Regions from separate parts of the Homo sapiens genome. Here region 1 is linked to region 2. Evidence: fine-mapped expression QTL. A gene starts in region 2. The other region holds a variant in brackets. All regions are shown on one strand. Distances are between the middles of the regions.

The links. PIP is the estimated chance that this variant, and not a neighbour inherited with it, causes the effect.
Region 1: its variant is fine-mapped to the expression of RASSF1-AS1 in T cells (TOPMed, PIP 0.92).

Annotation. Positions count from the first base shown.
Region 1 is chr3:50,881,296-50,884,203 of GRCh38, reverse strand. The region is part of intron 3 of DOCK3 (dedicator of cytokinesis 3); the gene reads right to left. Among named protein-coding and RNA genes, the nearest start is that of MIR4787, 210 kb to the right of the region's middle. The variant T/G (reference allele first, on the strand shown) is at 1,713.
Region 2 is chr3:50,336,016-50,338,923 of GRCh38, reverse strand. RASSF1-AS1 (RASSF1 antisense RNA 1) reads right to left here and starts at 1,413. Exons shown (of 1, transcript NR_109831.1): 1 at 624-1,413. RASSF1 (Ras association domain family member 1) reads left to right here. Exons shown (of 6, transcript NM_007182.5): 2 at 913-1,019. RefSeq lists enhancers at 550-639, 720-979, 807-1,378 and silencers at 1,450-1,629, 1,700-2,009.

The sequences.
Region 1 (2,908 bases), 550 kb before region 2:
CAGGAGAATCGCTTGAACCCAGGAGGCAGAGTTTGCAGTGAGGCGAGATGGCGCCACTGCACTCCAGCCTGAAAGAGCGAGACTCCATATCAAAAATTAAAAAAAAAAAAAAAGAATGGTATATACTTGCAGTGAAATCTTATTCAGCCATAAAAAGGAACGTACATGAATGAACTCAGAAAACATTATGCTGAATGAAAGAAGGCAGATGCAAAAGACACCTATTATATAATTTCATTTACATGAAATATTCAGAATAGGCAAATACACAGAGACAGAAAGAAGTCATATGGTTGTCAGCAGCAGGAGGATGAAAAAGTATGGCCACTTAATGGGCTTGGAAGTTTCTGTTTGTGGAAATGAAAACATTTTGAAACATAATAATGGTGATGTTTGTAAAACATTATGCATGTACTAAATGTCACTCATGGTAAACGTTATGTGTATTTTACATTCTAGATTTTTGAAAAATAAGTATAAAATATTTAAAATACAAATTTCTATAATTTTCAATGAAAATATAGAAGACAGAAGGAAGTGGCACATTTGTCAAATGCTGAAAGAAAAGCACTGTCAATCTAGAATATTATATCTACCAAAAATACATTTCAGGAATGGAAGACAAATCAAAACATTTTCAGATGAAGGAAAACAAAAAGAATTTGTCATCAACAGAAATACCCTAAAAAAAAGTAGTGAATGAAAATTCTCTAAGCAGAAAGAAAATGATAAAACAAAAAACCATGGAACTACACTAAGAAAAAACAAAAAATGTAAGCAAACCCATGGGTAAATATAATAGACATTCATTTTTCTCTTGAATTTTCTTAATTAGGTTTGATGGTTGAAGCAAACATTTTTTTTTATAAAGAAAAAACTTCTCCTTGTGCGTGATTATTTGCCATTCACAGATATCTAGCAAAATGGCCTTTTTTTTTTAATACTTCAAGTTCTAGGGTACATGTGCACAACGTGCAGGTTTGTTACATATGTATACATGTGCCATGTTGGTGTGCTGCACCTGTTAACTCATCATTTGTATTAGGTATATCTCCCAATGCTATCCCTCCCCCATTCCCCCACCCCACGACAGGCCCTGGTGTGTGATGTTCCCCACCCTGTGTCCAAGTGTTCTCATGGTTCAATTCCCACCTATGAGTGAGAACATGCAGTGTTTGGTTTTCTGTCCTTGCAATAGTTTGCTCAGAGTGATGGTTTCCAGCTTCATCCATCTCCCTCCAAAGGACATGAACTCATCCTTTTTCATGGCTGCATAGTATTCCATGGTGTATATGTGCCACATTTTCTTAATCCAGTCTATCATTGATGGACATTTGGGTTGGTTACAAGTTTTTGCTATTGTGAATAGTGCTGCAATAAACATATGTGTGCATGTGTCTTTATAGCAGCATGATTTATAATCCTTTGGGTATATGTCCAGTAATGGGATGGCTGGGTCAAATGTTACTTCTAGTTCTAGACCCCTGAGGAATCTCCACACTGTCTTCCACAATGGTTGAACTAGTTTACAGTCCCACCAACAGTGTAAAAGTGCTCCTATTTCTCCACAACTTCTCCAATACCTGTTGTTTCCTGACTTTTTAATGATCGCCATTCTAACTGGTGTGTGATGGGATCTCATTGTGGTTTTGATTTGCATTTCTCTGATGGCCAGTGATGATGAGCATTTTTTCACGTGTCTGTTGGCTGCA[T/G]AAATGTCTTCTTTTGAGAAGTGTCTGTTCATAGCCTTTGCCCACTTTTTGATGGGGTTGTTTGATTTTTTCTTGTAAATTTGTTTAAGTTCTTTGTAGATTCTGGATATTAGCCCTTTGTCAGATGGGTAGATTGTAAAACTGTTCTCCCATTCTGTAAGTTGCTTGTTCACTCTGATGGTAGTTTCTTTTGCTGTGCAGAAGCTCTTTAGTTTAATTAGATCCCATTTGTCTATTTTGGCTTTTGTTGCCACTGATTTTGTTGTTTTAATCATGAAGTCCTTGCCCATGCCTATATCCTGAATGGTATTGCCTAGGTTTTCTTCTAGGGTTCTTATGGTTTTAGGTCTAAGGTTTAAGTCTTCAATCCATCTTGAATTAATTCTTGTAAAAGGTGTAAGGAAGGGATCCAGTTTCAGCTTTCTATGTATGGCTAGCCAGTTTTCCGAGCACCATTTATTAAATAGGGAATTCTTTCCCCATTGCTTGTCTTTGTCAGGTTTGTCAAAGAGCAGATGGTTGTAGACGTGTGGTATTATTTCCGAGGGCTCTATTCTATTCCATTGGTCTATATCTCTGTTTTGGTCCCAGTACCATGCTGTGTTGGTTACTGTAGACTTGTAGTATAGTCTGAAATAAGGTAGCATGATGCCTCCAGCTTTGTTCTTTTGGCTGAGGATTGTCTGGGCAATGCGGGCTCCTTTTTGGTTCCATATAAACTTTAAAGTAGTTTTTTCCAATTCTGTGAAGAAAGGCATTGGTCACATGATGGGGACAGCATTGAATCTATAAATTACCTTGGGCAGTATGGCCATTTTCACGATATTGATTCTTCCTACCCATGAGCATGGAATGTTCTTCCATTTGTTTGTGTCCTCTTTTATTTCGTTGAGCAGTGGTTTGTAGTTATCCTTGAAGAGGTCCTTCACATCCCTTGTAAGTTGGATTCCTAGGTATTTTACTCTCTTTGAAGCAATTGTGAATGGGAGTTCACTCATGATTTGGCTCTCTGTCTGTTACTGGTGTACAGGAATGCTTGTGATTTTTGCACATTGATTTTGTATCCTGAGACTTTGCTGAAGTTGCTTATCAGCTTAAGGAGATTTTGGGCTGAGATTTCTAAATATACAATCATGTCATCTGCAAACAGGGACAATTTGACTTCCTCTTTTCCTAATTGAACACCCTTTATTTCT
Region 2 (2,908 bases):
GGGTAGGAGGAAAACTGGGAGAGTGTAGCCCCTGGGAGTCAAAGGGAGCAAGCTTCAAATGATGCTGAGGGGGTGAGAATGGAGAATGGAACACTGGATTCCATTTGGTAGTACACAGATCGCTGAGGACCCTGTCCCGGGCAGTTTCCTGGAGGAAGAGGCAAGCCTGGCTGGAGTGGGTAGAGGGGAGAGTGAAGGCGAAGGATTAGAGTGTATAGAGACCAGTGTCTTGGTCTGAGGGGAGTAGAGACAGGTGACAACCACAGGGCAGACGTAGGTTAAAGGTGTTTAGTTTTTCCTTCAAGTAAATGGGCAGATGTATTCCATATACGTTCCCAGTGAAGGGCCGGGTGCGGTGGCTCAAGCCTGTAGTCCCAGCACTTTGGAAGGCCGAGGCGGGTGGATCACCTGAGATCAGGAGTTTGAGACCAGCCTGGCTAACATGGTGAAACCCCGTCTCTACTAAAAATACAAAAATTAGCTGGGCATGGTGGCGGGCGCCTGTAATCCTAGGTACTCAGGAGGCTGAGGCAGAAGAATCGCTTGAACCCAGGAGGCGGAGGTTGCGGTGAGCCGAAATCGCGCCATTGCACTCCAGCCTGGGTGACAAAAGCAAGACGCAGTTTTTTGTTGTTGTTTTTTTAATTGCCAATGAGGAAAGGGGAAGTTCTGTGCTAGGCGATAGAGATCCAACTGTTGAGCAGGCCTCTCTGCCTGTGGCCTTCCGGCCGGTTTCCAGACGCCCAGGTGGCCAACATTAGAGTCCGCGTAGCAGTGTGAGGTAACCCACTGAGATAGGTCGGGCCTGCGGAGCCTGGCGAGCAGCGGCCCTCTCCCTGGGGCTTCCCTTCAATCTCCGGGACATTTCCCCGACCTGGAGCTCCTCCGCCTCACCGCCAGGCCTCTCTGCAGATTGCAAGTTCACCTGCCACTACCGCTGCCGCGCGCTCGTCTGCCTGGACTGTTGCGGGCCCCGGGACCTGGGCTGGGAACCCGCGGTGGAGCGGGACACGAACGTGGTGAGCGCGGGGCCGAGGGCGTATGGGAAGGGCGAGGATGGGCAGGCCACAGTGCAGGCATTCTCGAGGGCTGCCTGGGTGCCGCGCGCAAGGAGCGTTCTAATTGCCGATTTCCCGGCGGCACAGAGAGGCTAATTCTGCGCGGGGGCTGGGAGGGGAGCCTGGATTGCCGGCTCCGCAAGTACTCCACCCGCTGCAAGCGGACCCGGGCCCAGGCTGACCCAGGCTCCGCGCACGCGCACTTCCCGCACCTTCCCGCCCTCGCCTCCGGCCAGAGGCCACTCTTGTGCGCTTGCCCGGACGCTGGCACCCGCCCCCGTTCCCTGTGGTAGGTGGGGTCTGTGAGTGGAGCTCCGGAGCGATGAGGTCATTCCTGGGGGCGAAGCGTGCGTGTCCCCGCCCCGGCGTTCCTGCCCCAATGAGACAAGAGCTAGATCCCGGCGATCTACGTTTCAGTCTTAACGGTTGCGGCGCGGCTCTGGCCCGGGCGCACGCGCACACTGACACGCGTACACGCACGCACGCGACCGGGGCGGTGGTTGGCGGCTACGGACGCGCAGGACTGGGGGACGGGCGGGTACGGCTATGGGCGAGGCGGAGGCGCCTTCTTTCGAAATGACCTGGAGCAGCACGACGAGCAGTGGCTACTGCAGCCAAGAGGACTCGGACTCGGAGCTCGAGCAGTACTTCACCGCGCGAACCTCGCTAGCTCGCAGGCCGCGCCGGGACCAGGTGGGAGCCAGGGGGTGCCGGCGGGCGGGAGGGGAAGCGGTCGCTGGAGCTCCGCCCTCCCCGGTCCGTTGCCGCGTCCTGGGTCGGTGGGCAGCCCCACCCTCCTGGCTACGTGGCTCCCCGCGGGTCCTGGCCGGGGACCTGCCCGCGGAACCGTGCGTAAGACCCCGATTCCACCGCCTAGATGCTGGGTGCCGGGGCCCCCTTGGTTTCTGTCACAGACAGGTTGAACACGGAAAAAGCAGCTGTATGGCTTGTGGTAGACCTGAGCCGGGCATTATCCAGCTATGACTAAAGCCGACCGAGCAGTTTGGACTAGCACCTCGATTTCCGCGTTCGAATGCTCCTGCTCCCTCCTTGGGGAGACTAGGGGAGGATGTGGAGAGGGAAGAGTCCTCGCCAGGAATTGAGAAGTATGTTTAGGAAAACTTGAGAGGCAGAGAGAGATCCTGCTCCTCCATCTGCACTCCTGTATGGAGCCAGCTGAGCCCTCACCTCTTCCCTGTTCTGGCCTGTCACCAGCTGCTGGAATGTGGAAGATTCTGTTCCCTTCCTCTAGGGTGGATCTGGAGAAAGATTTGGGAATAGATAGGAAAGAAGTCTTGTTTTGGACCATAAGCATTCAGGAGCACTTTACCCACAGGAAGGGGGAAAGCTAGATTATAAAATGCCTAAAGAGGTGGAAAAAGAGATCCAGGTTACTAACCCAGGACTGTAAGGTGTCTCGGAACCTCCTAGGTATCCCCATTATCGGAGAACTGTGTGCCAGATGCCATTGGTGTGACCACCAGGCTCAGAGAACCAGGCCTAGGCACCAGGAAAAAGAAACAGGGACTGTGAAGCTCAGTATGCCTGGCAGAAATGGGGCGGAAATCCTTATTTAAGTAAAGAAAGTGGAGTTGTGAGTGATGCTTCAGATAAAATTTTACAAAATTCCTTACAAAATGGGTGGTGCTCAGCACGCCAAAATCTTAGCCCAGAGCTTGGGTGCAAGGGTTGAGTTGAGTGTAGACCCCTGGGCTTGTCTTCATGTCAGTCAGTCCTGAGCCATTTTCCACTGTGGAAAGGTGGGAAAACCACAAGACACTAACCAATTGAAAAGGAGGGCTAGCCACGGAGGTGCACACCTGTAATCCCAGCTACTTGGGAGGGTGAGG